Linked DNA regions of Homo sapiens: all the other regions are linked to region 3. Evidence: fine-mapped expression QTL. A gene starts in region 3. Each other region holds a variant in brackets. All regions are shown on one strand. Distances are from middle to middle. Region 1 overlaps SP100 (SP100 nuclear antigen). Region 2 overlaps SP100 (SP100 nuclear antigen). Region 3 holds the start of SP100 (SP100 nuclear antigen). Region 4 overlaps SP100 (SP100 nuclear antigen).

Region 1 (5,000 bases), 42 kb before region 3:
TTCCCATTAACTGTTTCCACTAACTTGCTCAAAGACAACTACCATTGAGGTTTCCAACACTAAGGTTAATTTTGCTTGTTGTGTAATTTATAAAAATGGAATAATCTCTTTTCTCTCCACTCTTTCTTTCTCCCTTTACCTCTCTCTCAATATATATAGATCTCCCAAAAGAAGCCAAATCCCCCAAAATTGTATGGATATTTTACTCAACATGCTTGTGAAAGTCATCTGTATTCGTTTTGTATAATTATTTTCACTACTAGATAGTATTCCATTATAGAAATAAGCCATGAATTATTTATTCATTTGTACAATTTCAAGCATTTGGCTTCTATGAATAATGCTGCCTTGAGCATTCTTTTCTATGTGTTTTGGTGACATAACACACATTTCTGTTGGTTTCTGCTGAGGAATATAATTGTTGGGTTATAGGGTATGTATATTTTCACCTTTGGAAGATTACCCCAAACTGTTTTCCCAAAAGCATATATAAAGGCAGAGATGAAAGAAAGAGAGCTTGGCAAATTCCAGTAAGTAAAGGAAGCTTAGTGTGGTGGGAATGTGGCATGAAAGGGCGAGAGGTGGGTGACGGGGAACGCGCAGGTGCGTGGTAGACATCCTTCAATTCACCACTCCAAGCAGTGTTGATCTACTGCTAAGGGCCACACGAAGGCACTGGGTTTCAAACAGGAAAGTCATATCAACTGGTTTCTATTTTGGAAAAGTCCATTCAACTGAAGTGCAGACTTGAGAGGAGCAAGACTGGGGGCCAGACAGGAGACTGTTCCTCTAATTTTAGTGAGAGTGACAGGGGTCTAGATTAGGGTGTTCGTGCTGGGGATGAAGAGAAATGGACAAGTTAGAGATATTTTAAAGTTGGGATTGACACAAGTGGCAAATGAAATGATGATTGTTTTAAGCCACTAAGTTTCAGGATAGTTTGTTACATGACACAGCAATAGATGACAGATGCAGCTTCCAAAGAGAGATGTTCTTCAGGTCTTTAAATAAAGGTCTTCAGGCAATTGGGGAAGGGAGTCAACAGGACAGGTCTGAGCTGGAGATGTATGTTTAGAAATCAACAGATCTTAGATGGTGATTGAGCCATGGAGAGGAAGTGATGCCTGAGGAGAGGCTTATTGTAATCTGGGGGTGGAGGTGGAGTCACAGGGGCCATTTTGATAAGAGGGCAGCTGATCTTTCTCCATAGTAATAGGACACCCTGTGCCTCCTTTCTAGCTCTTATCTCCTCAGATCAGAGAATGTCTTGATTTGTCTTCTCTCTTCCCTTCTTTGCATGATCCACTCTCTACCAATTTTTCATTCATTGTCCTTTAACTCATTTTCTGCATACTTCTCTTTGTGCCTCCCTCCATTTTTCCTATTTCTTGGTATTTATTTCCCTCTATGTTTTTTCTATTCATAGTCTTTTTATCTACACTTTTTAAAAATTATTGTCTCTTAGAGACAGAACCAGGGTGAGGTGAAGGTGGTGCTATGGGGTGCCTTGAAATTTAAGGAAGCTCAGTCTCACATGCCAAGTGAGGTCTCCTTACATGCTGTGCCCTGGGGGCCTCCCTGCCTCACCTCGTGCCAGGCCTGTTGTCCCATATGTAATGTTGCATCTCTGTTACATTTCCTACCTGCTTTGAGTCGGCCCTTATTTCTTAATTATTAACGTTACCTCTGCAAGCTTCTTCTATGTCACTTTTTTTTCAAAAATACTTTCGCATCTGATGTGTGAGTGCTATATCACTTTTTGTCTTTCTATATCTTCCTCATCTCAAACATTCCCATCATTACGAAAGGTCTCTTCCAGTGCCATTGTCTACCACACCAGAGGCCCTCCACTTGCCATTCCTTCCTGAAGGTCTTTCACCTGGGCTTCCTTCCTTTGCAAATCTGACAAGCAGCATCATGCATAATTTCTACGTTTTCATGATAACTTCTGAAAAGTAACTTGCAACATATTTCTATTCAACAACTCCACAACATGACAATGTATGGATACCATGTCACTTTATCTAAAATCTGTCTCACTCATACACAGTTGACCCTTCAACAACAGGGGCTTGAACTACATGAGTCCACTTGTATGCAGATTTTCTTCCACCTCTGCCACCCCTCAGACAGCAAGGCCAACCCCTCCTCTCCTTCCTCCTTCTCAAACTACTCAATGATGAGGATGAAGGTCTTTATGATTACCTATTGCCACTTAATGAATAGTAAATATATTTTCTCTTCCTTATGATTGTATTAATAACATTTTCCTTTGGAGATCTTACTTCATTGTGAGAATACAGCACATAATACGTATGGAAAATATGTGTTATCATCTGTTTATGTTATCAGTAAGGCTTCTGGTCAACAGCAGTTGTTAAGTTTTGGGGAATGTAAAAGTTATGTGCAAATGTTTGACTGCATGGGGCATTGGTACCCCTAACCTCCCACAGTGTCCAGGGGTCAACTGTGTTTTGTTATTTAATATTCCCTAGTTGACCTCTTTTGTATTCTTTCTTCTTGCATTCTCTAACCAGGGACAGTCCCTCTGTTAAAAAGACTCACTCTCTTTTTCCCTTCCATCTCATACCTGTTAAAAGCAGCCAGAGGCTGTGAACAAAGTCTGTGTGTCTTGGATGAGTGTAGGCAGTTAGTATGAGAAAACAAAGGGAAGTTTTGCCCTTATAGAAAAATAAAGATATAATTAGAAAATTGGGGAGAAGTAGAGCAAGATGGGAGAATAGGACTCTCCAGCCCTCCATCCCCTGCAGAAACACTGATGTGAACAACGACCTATGCATGAAAATACCTTTGCAAGAGCTGAGGAAACCAGATGAAAGATCACAGCACCTGAGTGAAACACAGAAATAAGAAAGAGCACATTGAAAAGGGCAGGAAGAAAAGTTTCACTGTGTCATCTTCCCCAACTCCAGGAAGCACAGCA[T/C]TGAGCAAGATACAATATGCTTGGGGAAAGGAGAAGGAAGTGAGCACCAGACTTTGCCTTACACCCAAACCACAGAACCGACTTCAGTAAAACCCAGCTCCCAAAGCCCCAGACTCTAGCCAGTACCCATGGTCTGAACCTCCAAGCTCACTCTGACCCCAACCTAAATCCTGCAGCCCCAGGACTCAGGCCAGCCCTGCGAACTCAGTCTTCAGCCTCCTACAGCACTATTTCAGCCTCAGTGAACCCATGATCCAGACCAGACCGAGTGCCAAACTGGACCAAGTGGCACTGGGCTTGAGGCCCATCCTAGCAGCAAGCTGGCTTCAATAGCACTGGGCTTCATGCCTACTGAAGTGCCTGAAGAAGCCTGCATCAGTGGTGTAGAGCCCTGCAGATTCTGGCTCAAGGTTTCCCCCAGCACAGACCTGCCCACTGGTTGTCCTAGGCACCAGACTAGCCTGCTTGAGGACTCTAGCAGCAAGCCTGCCCTTGTACCATGCCAGATGGCCATCTTAGAATCTTTAAATAGGGTGAAAGGCTTTCCCAGACAAAGTCAGCCTGCAAAGACTAGAATAGTTTCTACTTTCTCAAATGTACAGACATAAATGTAAGGCAACAAGAAACATAAAAACCAAAGAGACACAACATGACCAAAAGAACACAATAATCTCCCCATAGCAGACCCCAAAGTAATGGAGATAACAAACTGCCTTATGCAGAATTCAAAATAATTGTTTTAAGGAATCTCAGCAAACCTTAAGAAAATATAGGAAACAATTCACTAAAATTAGGGAGACAATAAATGACCAAAATGAGAAAGTTTAACAGAGATATTGAAATTATTTAAAAAATCAAACAAATTCTGGAGCTGAAAAATACAATGAATGAAATTTAAAAAGGCATCAGAGAGCATCAACAGCAGAATTGATCATGCAGAAGAAAGAATATGAACTCAAAGACAGGTTATTTGAAATACAATCAGAGAAGAAAAAGAAAAGAGAATGAAAAGTCATGAAGAAAGCTTACAGGATTTATGAAACACACCAAAAGAGCAAATATTTGAATCACAGGAATTCATAAAAGGGAAGAGAAAGACAAAAGTAGAAAGTTAATTTAAAGAGATAATAGTATAAAGCTTTGCCAATCTGGTGAAAGACATAAATTTCCAGGTACAAGAAGGTCAATGGTCTCCAATCAGATTCAGTGCAAACACGACTACACCAAAACATACTATAATCAAGCTGTCAAGATTCAAGGACAAAGAGAGAATCCTGAAAGCAACAAAAGAAAAGAAGCAACTAACATATGAGGGAGTTTTAATAAGGACAACAGTGGACTTTTTAGCACAAACCTTACAGATAAGGAGAGAATGAGATGAAACATTCAAAGTGCCAAAGGAAGAAAAAGAAACCTGACAACCAAGAATACTTTTCTTGGCAAAGCTGTCTTTCAGAAATAAAGGAGAGATAAAGACCGTCCCGGGAAAACAAAAGATGAATACATTCATTACCACCAGACCTGTCTTACAAGAAATGCTCAAGCTGAAAGAAGTAAATGCTAACTAATAATATAAAAATATAAGAAAGTATAAAACTAACTGGTAAAGTAAATATATAGTCAAAAAATAGTAGCTACAATAATTTTTTAGAGTATACACTATATAAAACTTGTAAACTCTGACATCAAACATTTTAAATGAGGGAGCAAAGTAAAAGTGCAGTTTTTGTAGGCAATCAAAATTAAGTTGTTATCAGCTTAAAATAGCCTGTTATAAGATGTTTTGTGTAAACTTCATGTTAACCACAAAGCAAAAACTTACAGTGATTACACAAAAGATAAAGAGGAATCAAAGTGTATCACTAGAGAAAATCACCTAATCACAAAGGAAGACAGTAAGAGAGAAAGAAAGGAATAAAGAATCTACAGACAACCAGAAAACAATAAACAAAATGGTTTTAGAAAGTACTTACCTATCAGTAATTATATTAAGTGTAAATAAATTAAATTCTCCAATCAAAAGACATAGAGTGGCTGAATGAATTTAAAAATCATG
Region 2 (5,000 bases), 58 kb before region 3:
AATCAAATGAAGAACACAGTCCCATTTACAATAGCCATAAAGAAAATGAGATCCCTAGGAATTCATCCAGCCAAGGAGGTGAAAGATATCTACAAGAAGAAGTACAAAACACTGCTGAAAGAAATCAGAGATAGCACAAATAAATAGAAAATTATTCCATGCTCATGGATTGGAAGAATCAATACAGTTTGAATGACTATACTGTTTAAATCAATTTATAGATTCAACACCATCCTTATTAAAATAAAAGCGTCATTTTTCACAGAATTAGAAAAATCTATTCTAAAACTCAGTTGGAACCATAAAAGAGCCTGAATAGCCAAAGCAATTGTAAACAAAAAGAACAAAGCTAGAGGCATCGCGTTGCCCAACTTCTAACTATACTATAAGGCTACAGTAATCAAAATGGCATGGTACTGGTACAAAAACAGACACATAGACCAGTGGAACAGAACAGAGAACTCAGAAACAAACCTGCTCACTTACAACCATCTGATCTTCAACAAAATCAACAAAAATAAGCAATGGGAAATGGACTGTCTATTCAATAAATGATGCTGGAATAACTGGCTAGACATACGAAGAAAAACGAAACTGGACCCATACTTCTCATCCTATACAAAAATTAACTCAAGATGGATTAAAGATTTAAATGTAAGACCTAAAACTATAAAAATCCTAGAATAAACCTAGGAAATACCCTTCCTGACATAGGCTTTGGCAAAGAATTTATGGCTAAGTCTCCAAAAGCAATTGCAACTCAAACAAAAACTGACAAGTGGGACCCAGTTAAACTAAATAGCTTCTGTACAACAAAAGAAATTACCAAAAGAGTAAACAGACAGCCTTCAGAATGGGAGAAAATTTTTGCAAACTGTGCATATAACGAAGGTCTGATATCCAGAATCTACAAGGAACTTAAACAAATCAACAAGCAAAAAACAAAATCCAATTAAAAAATGGGCAAAGGACATGAACAGACACTTCTCAAAAGAAGACATACAAGTGGTCAACAAACATGAAAAAAATGCCCAACATTACTAATCATCAGATAAATGCAAATCAGAATCACAGTGAGATACCATCTCACACTACTCAGAGTGGCTATTATTAAAAAGTCAAGAAAATAACAGATGCTGGTGAGGTTGTGGAGGAAAAGGAATGCTCATACACTGTTGGTGGGAGGGTAAAATTAGTTCAACCATTGTGGAAGACAGTGTGGCAATTCCTCAAAGACTTAAAGACAGAAATGCCATTCTACCCAGCAATCCCACTACCTTTAGGTATATACCCAAAGGAAAATAACTTGTTCTATCAAAAAGATACACGCACTCATATGTTCCTTATAGTGCTATTCACAAAAGCAAAGACACGGAACCAATCTAGTTGCCCATCAACAGTGAATTGGATAAAGAAAATGTGGCACACATATACACCATGAAATACTATGCAGCCATAAAAAGAATGAAATCACACCCTTCGCAGCAACATGGATGGAGCGGAGGCCATTATCCTAAGCAACTTAATGCAAGAACAGAAAACCAAATACTGCATGTTCTTACTTACAAGTGGAAGCTAAACATCGAATACACATAAATGTGAAGATGAGAACAAGAGACACTGGGGACCACTAGATGGGGCAGGGGGAGAGGGTGGCATGGGCTGAAGAACCATCTGTTGGGTACTATGCTTACTGCCTGGGTGATGGGATTTTTGGGACACCAAGCCTCAGCATCACACAATTTACCCATGTAACAAACCTGCAAATGCACCCTTTAATCTATAATAAAAGTTGAAAAAAGAAAATGATGATAATAAACCTTAGCATTAAAAAATAGTTCATTTGTAACATAAAAATTAAGTAAATTCTTATTTGTTCTTACTTCTTTTCCCACTGTGTTTTTCCAAAGTAGAATTGTTTTCAACATCCATGGTATCTAGAAAGTGACAGGTAGTGGTCAGAGAACTGTAATTTATAAGTAAAATTTATAAATCTTATGACAATTCACACTGCATGGAAGGCTTGCGTTTATAACAATATTCTGAGTATAATTTATCTGTCTTCCTTCCAAAGGAAACAGACACTGAATTGATGTCTAAGGTCTTCGTCTAGTTCTCTGAGACTTTGAAACAGCTCTTCATTACTTTTATGCACCAATTTCCTCATTTATGAAACAGGGACAGCAACGGTTATCCTGTTCAGCTTTAAAATTTTTATGAATATTAAATATCTTACTTGCAAGAGTTAATAGGAAATCACTATATAAATCAATAACAGTCCAGAGGATATCTTTCAAAACAATGTATTTTTAGCATAAGAGTAGGTATCTGATTTTTCTTTCCTGACAGGTAGCAGGACTATTTGTCTTTTTAGGCCTTTCCAAAGTTGTGACAAAATGACACTATTACCTGTGAGTGGAAGAACATGTTTTCTTTTTTTTTTTTTCAAGAACAAGGATGGAACTCGCTTTATAAATTCAACACTTTACTATTGATATGCTAATATAGTGAGATACTACTATGTTTACCAGTGTATTTTTTTACCACCTAACCAAGAGAGCCCATTCTGTTAAATATGGCTTTATAATGATCTCTTGCCTCCCTGCAGTTCCCAAAAGGGTCGGGTTAAGCAAATGTAGAGAACAGGATTCTGGCGGCACCAAACCTGTTCTTTGTCACAGTCTGCTCACAGTCAAGTGCAGCAGGAAACCGGGACTATGATTTCAGACTTTTGAAATTCTGAAGCTTGGGGCCTGTGGGCCCACTTCCTGTTGGTGATCCAGAGGCTGTTTCATGCTTTGCTTCAACTCTGATCACTTCCCACATCCCTACCCAGTGTCTGTGATATCCACTGAGCCACTTCCATCCCAAGACCCTAGGGTAGCCTTA[C/T]CCATCATGTCAGATGCTTGACTACTTTCAGTCCTTGCTTCTTGGCTTCTTGGCACACCTTTTGGAAAACACATGACACAGGAGCACTTCTTATTTTCAGGTTCTTGTGGCTGTGATCCTAAATTGTGATTTGTAAACATTTTTATTTGTGCCCACTCCCCTTCAAAGATTCTCCTTCCCCCCAACATTAGTGACTGCCCACTCCCCACAGCTAAATTAAGGGATGGGCTCTACATCTGAAATCTCTTTTTCTTTTGTGGTTCCTCACTGTATTTTTCCCTTCTGTTCATAAATAACCCTGAGAATTTCATCTTGAAATAAAGGGTCAATTAATAGTTTGTTTCAGTGATGAAGAACACTGGAGGAGCAAAGGCTGGTTTTAGGGAAAAAGATGATGTGCTCAGTTTTGGAGGTGTTAAGTTTGAAGGTCTTGAGTAACATCCAAGTGGTGAAGTCTAAGGCCTTCAGAATCTCCAACAGGAGCCTTCTGACACTTGGATGAATGAGTTTAGAAGACAGGGCTGGCTGGAGATACACATGTAGGAATCATGAGGTTGTGGGTGGTGACTGAAATCACAGGAGTGGATGAAATGCCTGGGTGAGGCCTTTTTTAATCTGGGTGAGTCAGAGGGGCCAGGGGACACCTTATTCTGAAAACTTACTGCTATTGTGAATCATGCCTTGTGCTAAAGTTGCTTTTATCTCATGGTCATTTCAGATCCTACAATTTCTCCATCATTCTCTTCTCTCCCATTTACACTTCCCCCTTCTTGCCTCCATTTTTCTCTCATCTTTTAATTCTTTCTCTACATACTTCTTGTTGTACCTAATTTTTTACACCACTCATCACCCTTTGAATGTATCTCATTCCACCTGTTTTTCTGTTTATATCTTTAGATCTAGTTTTATTATTGAGGTGAACTTCTTTCTACTATCACTTCCTCCTTCTATTCTCTCTTCTAGCTTGTTTCTCTGAATCTTGTCTTGACTTTTTTTTTTTTTTTTTTTTTTTTTGAGACGGAGTCTTGCTCGATCGCCCAGGCTGGAGTGCAGTGGTGCGATCTTGGTTCACTGCAAGACCTGCCTCCAAGGTTCACGCCATTCTCCTGCCTCAGCCTCCTGAGTAGCTGGAGCTACAGCTGCCTGCCACCATGCCTGGCTAATTTTTTTTGTTTTTAGTAGAGATGGGGTTTCACCGTTTTAGCCAGGATGGTCTTGATCTCCTGACCTCGTGATCCGCCCACCTCGGCCTCCCAAAGTGCTGGGATTACAGGCATGAGTCACTGCGCCTGGCCCTTATCTTGATCTTGACTCTTTTTGCAATTTCAATCTTTGTCTTTATCCACATTTTCTTCATCTATATTCATCTTTATCTCACAGGTTATTACTTTCATCACCAAATGCCTGCTGTTAGGACACTGACCACATAGCCATCTCTATTACCTTTGTCTGTTCTTTATGAGCTTTCTACCTTGCAAGGCTGTCAATCAATCAGCAACTTTATTTTCACGTTTCTGGTACAATTTCTGAGAAGTGTGTTGAAAATTATCCCTCCCTCCCCCACAAAATTCCCCTACCTGGAATATTTGAATTCCTTGTCCACTTAGAAAAACTTGAAGCTGACTCTTATATCTTTTCATTTGGTGACTCTAGCCTACCTTTCTCCATTCTTTCTCCTTACTTTATCCACTCAGTGTCTCCTCCCTCCATTCAGGAGCCCAGCTCTTCTTTTTCTTTTCGCTCCCTCAAACCTGTCGCAAGCAGCCCGAGTCTGTGCACAAGTCTTTGTGTGTGTGGTGTGTATGTGTGTGTGCATATGTTTTGGGGGAGAGGTAAGGAAAAGAAAAAAGAACTTTTCCTCCATGCAAGTAGGAAAAAAAAGATAATTAATAATGAACTGAACATCATAATCGGCTTCTCCATCACAAGCTAATGGGCTGCATCTCTTCTGACTCTCTTTGTGTATTCATTGGAGGAGCTCTAAATTCACAGGACAATGAAGACAAACAAGGAAATAATAGACTATAGACAGTGACGAGGAAACCAGGGAACCTGTCTCAATGTGGTCATGCTGAACTATTTTCAGAGCTTAAACGGACTGACAAAAAAAT
Region 3 (5,229 bases):
GTAGCTCAGACAAAAAACAATTTGATCTCAGATAAAACAGGGAATGTTAAAAAAAAAAAGAAAAAAAGTTCATCCAGATTATGACTAAGCAAACGGGAAGTTTGGGGTGACCTGCCCTGGCCAAGCCTGGCTAGAGGAGCTGTAAAGCCACCACAGGCACGTGGAACACAAGATCAGACAGAATCAGTCTGGAAAAATAACTAAGAGACAACAAGGAGAATATCCCAAAGTTCTTAACAGCACAGGCAAACCTAAATAAAGCAAGACTGTGAAGACTGAATGACAAGAGGTTATGGAGCTTGCAGGCGTACAGAAACCAATTAAGATCCCTCCTCAAAAATAAACACTATCAATTTTTAAAAAATTAGAAATGACAAGAAACAAGAAACCTACTAGAAGGTAAATAATTGTCATGGAGGAAAAGTTTGAGACAACTATTATGAACACAAAGTGAAAGACTGAAAAGATGAAAACGGGGCAAATAAAAGCTGTGAAGGCTAAAGTGGCTCCAATGTAAGAATATTTTTGTTTAAAAATTTAAAAAATTTTCAGAGATATTAGAGGAGGAACTCTTCCTGGAATAGCGGTAGCAGCGAATCTGCCACCTTAACACAGAAATAATTGTAAAAACTAAGAGTGCTCACAGAGGGTGTCAGCATCACCTCGTTTATAACAAGGGTGCATCTATCTTAAAAAAATCTGTATCACAAGAGGCCTATATGTTAAGTTTTAAGCTTTAATAAGATAAAAGTCACCATAGACAAAGGTAATGGACAAGAAAAGTATATTTATACTTACAGAATATTTAGTGAATTCTCCCATATCACGAAAAAAAGGACAAACACCTCAACGGAATCATATTGGCAAAAAACAAACAAGCAATTTATAGAAGAGGGAATTTAAATGGCCAAGAAACATGAAAAGCTGATCAATTTTCCCATCGTAAGGAAAATACAAATTAAAACAAGACATAACTCTTCATTCATCACCTTTGCAAATCGTGGCTGTGTGCAGGAAGATGGTTCATCTCATTTGCTACTGGTGAAATACATTCATTCAGCCTCCTAGAAAGACAATTTGGCAGGACCAAGTAAATAACTGGACCCTTTGCCTCAATAATTACATTTTTAAGGTTTAGAGACAAGATAAATATTTGTTTAGATGTAAAAACCCAAAAAGAAATATATAATCATTGTTATGATAGCTTATTGGTAAATGTGAACAATTTAAAAACAATCTAAATGTCCTTCAATTGGAGAATAAATAATTATCATATATCAATTCTATGGAATAGCATGTATAAAAAGAATGAGGCAGATCTATATGTATTAAGGTTAAAAGATCTCTAAGTTTTCCACTATTAAAATAAGTAAAAATGCAAAATGCAGACTAGCACATGTAATATAATTTATTATAAATCAAGAACATAAATTACGTATTTACAAAAAATGCATTAGATATATAAATGCATAGAAAAATATAAGAAAAGCTGTGCCCAAGACTCTTCACAGGACTGGGAAGAGAAGCTACAAGAATGGCTGAGTGGCAAAGATGACTTTTTCCTTAATATACTTCTCCACTGTTTTAAATTTTATGAACAATAATGTACAGTGTATTTCTTTTGTATTAAAAAATTTAAAAGATTAAGTAATGTTATTTCTCAACTCACTACTAGAGAAAAGTTAGGATTTCCTTCTCTTTTCTGGTCAGAGGTATCCCCCATCTTGGGACAGGAAATTGAGGTAAAAATGAAAATATTTAGCCGTTTGTCACCCTGGGCCTTTTTCTTCCCTTTCCTTCTTTTGATCAAGGTTGATGGAATAAGAACTCAGACCCTGAGCCAGTCATGGGAACAGCCGGCAGAGGCCCCTTGCCAGGACAGGTGAGACCACAGCGTCTGATGTTTAAAAGTAAGCCAGGTGTTTACCCTGGAGTGTTTATTTTCTAAAGCACCTTTTTTGACATGACATATTTGAAGGTAGAGGAAGGCTGAGGGGTGAAAGGGTTCACAGATCATGAGGAAATAGTTAATCCCAGCCACCAACAACTGCTATGTTTAGAGTGTCCCGGTCAGCTGAGCAGTAAATCCAAAACAAGAAAGTCACGTGTGTTATGGCAAGTTGAACTCACACCAACAGCTGTCCTGCTCCTGTTTAAAAAATCTGATTTCCTCATTACTTGTCTTTCATTTCATTATATAACATCGCATACCTATGTTCTTGCAAAGAAGGATTAAAGTGAAGCCTTAGGCACAAACTGAACTAAAGGCATGAAAGCTGCAATATAGCCAGAGATAAAGGTTAAAGGAAGGGAGATAAAGACTCACCTGGTGCTCAGGTCGCCGCCCCCACCTGCCATCTTCCCACCCTAGGCCCTGCGTGGGCCTCAGAGCCTGGCCTCTGAGCCCCTCAGTCGGCCCAGCCTGCGTGCAGTGTGGCTGCCCAGGCCCCAAGCAGGAAGTCGGCCGACAGACTGACTCAGAAAGGGCTCCGCCCAAATGGGGAAAAGAGAAGTGAAAGTATTTAACCTCCTTCTGGGCTACGGACACTGTGTTTCTCCTCCTTTTTCACTCCAAGGGATTCTCAGCTTTTCTGAAATGTGGCAGAGGGTTGGAGGAGAGGCCTGACAAGCAGCAAGACCTGCAGGACCAGGGAAGGAGGGCCCAGGGGACGAGCAGGGCCAGCTCCCGGGTGTCCACTTGTTTGTGCAATACACAGCCAAAAAAAATGTCCTTGAAACAAAATTGTCCTTAGCTGCTCTGCCCTCTAAGAGGGGGCATAGTTTACATGGGAGTTGGGGGGGAAACTCCATGTTTGCCCCTTCCCCTTGCTGACATGGCTTGGGGTGGGAGTTGGAGGGTTGGAGGGAAAGCCAGAAACCTCAAATCTTCTCTCAGGCCCATGGGAGAGCATGGACTGGACTAAGGTAGGTCCTGACATTGGGACCCAGGGCTGGAGAGAACCAAAATGCTCAGCATTATAACCTGGGGAGAGTGTGCTTAGCCTTCCTGGAAATCAGCCAGAAGTAAGAGAGAACTCTCCACACCCCTGGGACCAGAGGCTGGAGCCAGCATGGTAAGAAAGGCAAACATTTTAAGGGGCAAGGGTTTAAGGAATCTTGACTATGGGGCCGCCTTGGAACAGCCAGGGGTGAAGAGACACCTAAGCTTCGGAGAAGTCACTGGAATCTTGAGAGAACAAAAGCTTCTCATTGGAGGAGGATGGAGGTTGGAACCCAGATGATCTAGACATGGAAGGGCAGGGTGGCTCCCGCGGGAGGTTCTATCTCTGCCCAGATTTTCCATTTAGATTCTGATTCATCATTCCTCAGAGAACAAGAAGCGACCGAGAAGACTCGCTTTACATCAGTATAAAGTCATAGGTAAAGAAACAGAAGCAAAGGGCGCATGAGAATGGGGCCACAGGACACAACCAGGGACCAGAACTCCAGGCCGGACCATGGGGCAGAGACAGGGAGGCAGCTGGGAGCCTGGGGGCGCTGGAATCCAGGGCCCAAGGTGAGCAGAGGGTGGAAGCTGGTGAGGATTCAGGGGCCAGAGGGGATGGCACTTCAGAACGGTGTTTTCCAAATGGCATTCTACTGAATCCAACTTCTTCCAGCTGTGAATAAGGATGCTTGTCCAGGTACATTTGAAAATGTGGGGGAAGGGGCTTTCTACCCTCACTCTACTTCTGCTCTTCTTTTCCCCATGAGTGAATGACCAGGCACCAGGACATTGGTGAGGACAGCTTTGCCGGTGGGCGAAGGTCACTGTTTCTATCAGGCACTGCACACCTGTAGGTCTCTCTCTCTTTCTCTCACCTGTAGGTCTCTCTCTCTTTCTCTCATTCTTCCTACCCCCCATGACTCCCCGACTTTATGGGGCTGAAGGGCTGGTAAGCTGAGCCTCTTTTGGGCACAGCTGTCCTTTGATCCCAGTCTCCATGAGGCACATTGGTCCCAAGAAGTCCTGGCATGGACCACACAGTATGCTTTGGTGTGGTTCACGTTCTCCCCTCTCGCTGCCTCTGGGCAGCAGGCAGGCTCAGGCCATTGAGTGGCACTGACATAAACGTGCCAGCTTTTCCCTGGATGTGCTTAGGGGCTACTAAGAGCAGCACCTGGAATTCCAGACCAATGAGCCACAGGCTGGCAGGGAATTCCTTACGGGTTGAACTTCACGGGCAGACATGCCCATGCTGGGGCACCTCCTGGCAGCAGGGAAGGAGATGTTCTCATCAGATGAGGTTGGAGACAGATGAGCATGCACCATGCTCCGCTGGTATATGGAGAATCTGTAGGCCTCTGTGAAGAAAGCAAAGTTTCTCTGATCCAGAAAACAATGTCAGACACACTGGGGTTGGGAAAGGGACGGGACCACATTAAGAAGACATGTGAGCTAAAAATCCTGCTGGACTGTTTAGAAGGAAATAATGGAACTCCTGGGGCATTTTCCATGGCTGCAAGGAGCACAGGCAATAGGGAATATTTCTGTTGTCAAGAAGTAGTTCCAGTTACTGGAGCCTGGAAAACTCAAAAGCAGGGGAGGCAGTGATTGAGGAAGGACCACAGGCAGGGCACCCAGCCAGATGATGGGCCTCTTACATTTCACCAAGAGCAGCTTCAGTTCAGACTTCAGTGGTGTGGGTGAGGCAGGAGAATAGGGTCTGGAGGCAGGGAACCTAAGGCCATTTCATGCTAACTTCCTAGAACTAAATTGAAAGGAAAACCCTAACTTTCCATGCCTAAGTAACAAAAGGTCCAGAGGCTACTCCCTTTGCAAACCCCCACCTTTTCTGTGGGGCAATGGGAAATGGAAAGTACCTGTGTATAGTTGTTTTTTGCATAGGAGTGTAACTTTGTAACTTTACTTCAGCCTCTGATGGGTTGCTGTCTGCAACCAATCAGACTGATTGCAGGCCAAGTCTTCCTTTGCATAGAAGTACAACTTTGTAATTTCACTTTAGCCTCTGATTGGTTGCTTTCTGCAACCAATGAGATGTTTGCACAGGAGTGTGACCTTTGTAACTTCACTTCAGCCTCTGGTTGGTTGCTTTCCTCAACCAATCAGACTGATTGCAGGCCGCCACTTCATTTACATGAGGTGAGCACCAAGTGGTCAATGGGAAACCTCCAGGGGGTATTTGGACCAGAGAAGATTCTGTATGCGGGACCGTTGAATACTGCTTGGGCCTGCTCCCACACTGTGGAGTGTACTTCTATTTTCAA
Region 4 (5,000 bases), 120 kb before region 3:
GATGCTGACCACTATTTTTAGGCTGCTGGGTCAAGGTTTCTGATACATCATCCTATAAAGTACACTGCAAGTGGGCCCCAAGAAAGAATAAATACCACAGGCAAATCCTATGTTTGAAGTTCCATTGTCTAGAAAGCCTGCAAACTTGGTGTATGTCTCTTTAACCTTTTTAGTAAGAATTTTTTTCTTTTGCTTACAAGTGGTTCTCAACTTGCTCTACAGTAGAATCCCCTGGGAGCATTAAAAAACATCTCTGGAGCCCCATTACCAGAGATTTTGATTCAGTTAGTCTGGGTTGGTGTATAGGCATCAGTATGTCTTAAATATTGTCCAGATGGTTCTAATGTGCAGTCAATAGTTGAGAACTCTGGCCTCTAATGCAGTGGTCTCTGGACCAGCAGCAGCAGCACCTGGAACTTGTTAGAAATATACAGCCTTGGGCTCTGCCTCTCACTTGCTGAATCAGAAGCCTAGGGGTAGCTCCTAGCCAGCTGTGGTCTATGAAGCCCTTCAGGTGGTTCTGATGGACCCTACACAATTGTGGCAATTGTGATCGAACTGTATTGCACTACAGTGACTCACAACTTTTCTTGTGCTAGAAAAACACAAAACACCAGAGGAGCTTTGGAAACACCAATTCTCAGGCAGCACCTCAGACCAATAACATCAGAATCTTTGTCAGGCGGTTGCGGGGGATCCCCAGGTGATTGCAACGTGCAGCCAAGGTTGAAAACCCACATTACAAAGTGGTTTCTCCTGAGTAAGGGCTGGGAGGTCATAACTAGAGTCATTAACAGCCTACAAGTTTGTCTAGGAAAGTTTTTGAAAAGGGGTGAGGACTTCCTTGCTGGAAGAGTTGCCTTTTCCTCTTCACAGAGGGCTTGGCTGTGGGCTGTAAGAAATGGCCCTATGGGTCTCCCTTAGTCATCAAACAAGTTATGCAGACCCCAGAGATGAGAGCTGTTTGACTACTGAAGGGTCTCACCTCCAGCAAAGAAACAGAAACAGTGTGGATTGATCTAGATCTTGCTAGGGAAGAGCATTGGCTAAGAAAATAGAGGGCATGGCAACTTCTTTTCTATCCCCTCTCAATTAGTGTCCTGTACCAGTCCAGCTGCATGGCATTTTTGTTTTGAGACAGGGTCTCACTCTGTCACCTCGGCTGGAGTGCAGTGGTGCGATCACAGCTCACTGCAGCCTCAACTTCCTGGACTTAAGTAATCCTACCACCTCAGCCCCTGGAGTAGCTGGGACTACAGGTGTGTCCCACCATGCCTGACTAATTTTTGGTATTTTTTGTGGAGGTGGGGTTTTGCCATGTTGCCCAGGCTGGTCTCAAACTCATGGGTTCAAGTGATCCTCTTGCCTCAGCCTCCCAAAGTGCTAGGATTGCAGGCATGAATCACTGTGCCTAGCTTACATGGCATTCTTACAGCAAAAGGTGCTCCTTGCAGTTGTGCAAAAGGCTGACCCTGCCTAAAATGCTCATCTCATTGCAATGAAAAGAATCAAAATGTGACTTTGTTTAGACAGGGAAGTCACCCATGATTTTGTTATTGAAATACCAGGGGTTCAGTTTAGGTCCTGCTGCTTGCCACGCAGAAAGCCAATCACTGAGACAATGAGTATTGCCAAGCAAGAAGGCTTTAGTCGGGTGCTGCAGCCAAGGGGATGAGAGATCAGTCTGAAATCTGTCTCCCTGACTCACTAAAGTTAGGGGTTTATATAGCAGAAATGTATCTATATTCAGGGAAGCAGGAATTAGGGAGTGGTAAGGAGGAATTGGTTAACAGGAAGGAGATTATTGGTTAGGCAGTCATAAGGGGTGAGGAGTTTGGCATCTCATTGTCCAAATACAGTAATCTGGTGAGTTTCAGTCCCTTGATGTTATGTGGGGGTCTGACGGTTGGTTTCCTGAGAAAGAACTCAGATAAGACAAATGTAACTCTCTCAAGTTTTAAGACTGAGAGGGTCAATTTCTATGTTTATTCAAAATAAACTGTAAAAATCAGATTTATGGGACAATTGGGTTCATTTCAGTGCCCCTTTTCTGTTTATCAATTCCTCAATCATGGGGAACTGGTTGTCAATCTTTCTGGCTGTTTCATGCTGATGAGGAGTGTC[G/A]TGGGCAAATCCATACCATGGGTGACCCACATAGCCACCCAAAAATCAAAAGTTAACTGAATACTATAGGTTTCTTCTGAAACACACTCTTTTTCTCTCCAGTCTCCCACTTCCACTAAAGACAAATCACAGCAGGACCAACCTACCTGCCAAATAAGCTTCAGTCCCATATACTTGGCTTATTTGCCCACACAAAGTGCAGCAAGAACCATTGTCCATGTAGGCTATCTTAAACTGGCTTTGCTGGAACCTCTCACAAGGCCATTTCAGTCAAAGCCCTGGGAAAATGACCAGTTCCTCCAACTGTGTCTCATTATAAAAGAAAACATATTCTTTTTTTTTTTTTTTTTTTTTTTTTTTTTGAGATGGAGTCTTGCTCTGTCACCCAGGCTGGAGTGGAGTGGCATGATCTTGGCTCCCTGCAGCCTCCACCTCCCAGGTTCAAGTGATCCTCCTGCCTCAGCCTCCCGAGTAGCTGGGACGACAGGCATGCACCACCACTCCTGGCTAATTTTTGTATTTTTAGTAGAGACGGGGTTTCACCATGTTGGCAGGCTGGACTCAAACCCCTGACCTCAAGTGATCCACCTGCCTTGGCCTCCCAAAGTGCTAGGATTACAGGCATGAGCCAACACACCCAGCAGAAAACAGATTCTTATTAAACATACGCAAACACATTGCCATGAATTAATAATATTCACAAATAGTTTATGAATTCTGGAGAAATTAGGCAGAGAGAGAGAGAAATATGCCTCAAACTTAGTTTACAAGAGTAATGCTCCTCTCAATTGTTAAAGGCAGCAATGTTTCAAACAAAAAAAATCCATAAGAAATTATTTCTGGCCTCCATTTGTTCAGTGTAGGCAACTAACTCCTGCTCTGCTTCATATTAGGTTAGTAAATTTTATGAATGTATCAGTTTTTCAGTTAGTTTCTTGGACGTTTTCTCTCTCTAATCTAATGAAACAACCTCCAAAGTCATCAGAAACCTACATTCAAAAGTCCTTTTCATGAACTCCCCCAAAGAAGCAAACCATGGACTGTAGCTGATTATAAGATACTTTTTTTTTTTTGAGATGGAGTCTCACTCTGTCGCCCAGGCTAGAGTGCAGTGGCACAATCTCGGCTCACTGCAACCTCCACCTCCCAGGTTCAAGGAATTCTCCTGCCTCAGACTCCCGAGTAGCTGGGACTACAGGTGCCTGCCACCATGCCCGGCTAATTTTTTTTATTTTTAGTAGAGACGGGGTTTCACCATCTTGGCCAGGGTGGTCTCGAACTCCTGACCTTGTGATCCACCCGTCTTGGCCTCCCAAAGTGCTGGGATTACAGGCGTGAGCCACCATGCCCGGCTGATTATATGTTACTTTTTGAGAAGAATCAATGCAAAATAACAATAGTGGATGTCAAAACTCTTAAGCAAGCCATAGTTAAAGACACAGTTGATGAGGAAATTTGGTTATTTCTGTGACATATAACAATTCAACATAATAAGCATAATTATTACTGATGGCATATATTAAAACATGCAAGAATCATACAATCCTGGAACACATATTAACAACACATCTATATAAATATAACCCAAAAGAAGTTGACCACCACCTCAGATGTGACAACGCTTTCTGCATAATTCTAATGTAACAAATAAGTCAATAAGTCTAGTATGTCTCTCTTGAACTTCAGGGAACCTAATGTGCAAATAAGTTAGTTTGAGGTCAAAAAGGCCGAATTTAGAACTTGAAATTTTTACTCTTGGAAAGTCTGTCAAATATCAAAGTTTTAAGACATTTGATATTACAAAATAGGATCACAGGTCACTGTAAAGTAGTCATTGATTTAGCTAAGACTTCTCTTTTTTTTGAGACGGAGTCTCGCTCTGTCACCCAGGCTGGAATGCACTGGTGCAATCTCAGCTCACTGCAACCTCCGCCTCCTGGGTTCATGCCATTCTCCTGCCTCAGCCTCCCGAGTAGCTGGGACTACAGGTGCCCACCACCACGCCCGGCTAATTTTTTGTATTTCAGTAGAGATGGAGTTTCACCATGTTAGCCAGGATGGTCTCAATCTCCTGACCTCCTGATCCACCCACCTCAGCCTCCCAAAGTGCTGGGATTACAGGCGTGAGCCACCGCACCCGCTGACATTTACCCTTTTCTAGGGAGTAGACTCAGTTTCCCAAACAATGAAACCTAATAAAGACAGCATGAGGCCACCTAAATGTCTTTTTCCTCCTTTTTTTGCACCCTGTAGTTATTCAAAAGGTAAATAAAAATATTTCATTAGCTCTCATATGAAAATTTTGTTCAAAAGAGAAAACCAAATTTCACCTTTGTATAGTGTATTACTAATATTAAAAGTAATTTTTAAAACCTTATAAACAATTTTAATTTTATCAGTTTGTTTGTAGAGTAAGATCTCCATAAACCTTTTACAATCTTCTATTAAAGAGCCGATTAATGCTCCAGGAAAATGCTGTTATTCTGACACATGGGCCTAGACTCTGGCCTTGAATCAGTGTGCTTTTGATATTAATATTTAATTTATAGAAAACCCTCAAATCTCACATGTCCACATCTGCCATGACAGTCCCTTGGCCTAGACAGATTGAATAGTTTTAATTTCTGGCCCAGTGTCTCATGAAAGCAGTTCATTTTGACTGTCATTTTCTCCCAGGTCTGAAGATGAGGCTTAAACTAGGGTAATGTTCAAGATTTAGCAGAAGTAGGTGCCTTTTTCAGACCCAGAAGTTAAAGCCCTGTAACTTAACAGCACAAGGATTGGTTAAGAGGACATTTATGCTGCAGAAAGTCCTATCATTTTCTGTGACATGTCACAAACACTGTGATTTAGTGTCCAGTAGTTATTACTTCCTA

What was found. PIP is the estimated chance that this variant, and not a neighbour inherited with it, causes the effect.
Region 1: its variant is fine-mapped to the expression of SP100 in whole blood (TOPMed, PIP above 0.99).
Region 2: its variant is fine-mapped to the expression of SP100 in whole blood (TOPMed, PIP above 0.99).
Region 4: its variant is fine-mapped to the expression of SP100 in whole blood (TOPMed, PIP above 0.99).

Annotation. Positions count from the first base shown.
Region 1 is chr2:230,455,553-230,460,552 of GRCh38, reverse strand. The region is part of intron 8 of SP100 (SP100 nuclear antigen); the gene reads right to left. All of the region lies in intron 3 of LOC101928816 (a long non-coding RNA gene), which reads left to right. Among named protein-coding and RNA genes, the nearest start is that of SP100, 42 kb to the right of the region's middle. The variant T/C (reference allele first, on the strand shown) is at 2,945.
Region 2 is chr2:230,471,331-230,476,330 of GRCh38, reverse strand. It overlaps SP100 (SP100 nuclear antigen), which reads right to left. Exons shown (of 29, transcript NM_001080391.2): 16 at 2,891-3,007; 17 at 1,884-1,937. All of the region lies in intron 3 of LOC101928816 (a long non-coding RNA gene), which reads left to right. Among named protein-coding and RNA genes, the nearest start is that of SP100, 58 kb to the right of the region's middle. The variant C/T (reference allele first, on the strand shown) is at 2,890.
Region 3 is chr2:230,413,426-230,418,654 of GRCh38, reverse strand. It overlaps SP100 (SP100 nuclear antigen), which reads right to left and starts at 2,454. Exons shown (of 29, transcript NM_001080391.2): 1 at 2,327-2,454; 2 at 990-1,064. The coding sequence starts at 2,358. RefSeq lists an enhancer at 2,288-2,807.
Region 4 is chr2:230,533,393-230,538,392 of GRCh38, reverse strand. The region is part of intron 24 of SP100 (SP100 nuclear antigen); the gene reads right to left. Among named protein-coding and RNA genes, the nearest start is that of SP100, 120 kb to the right of the region's middle. The variant G/A (reference allele first, on the strand shown) is at 2,125.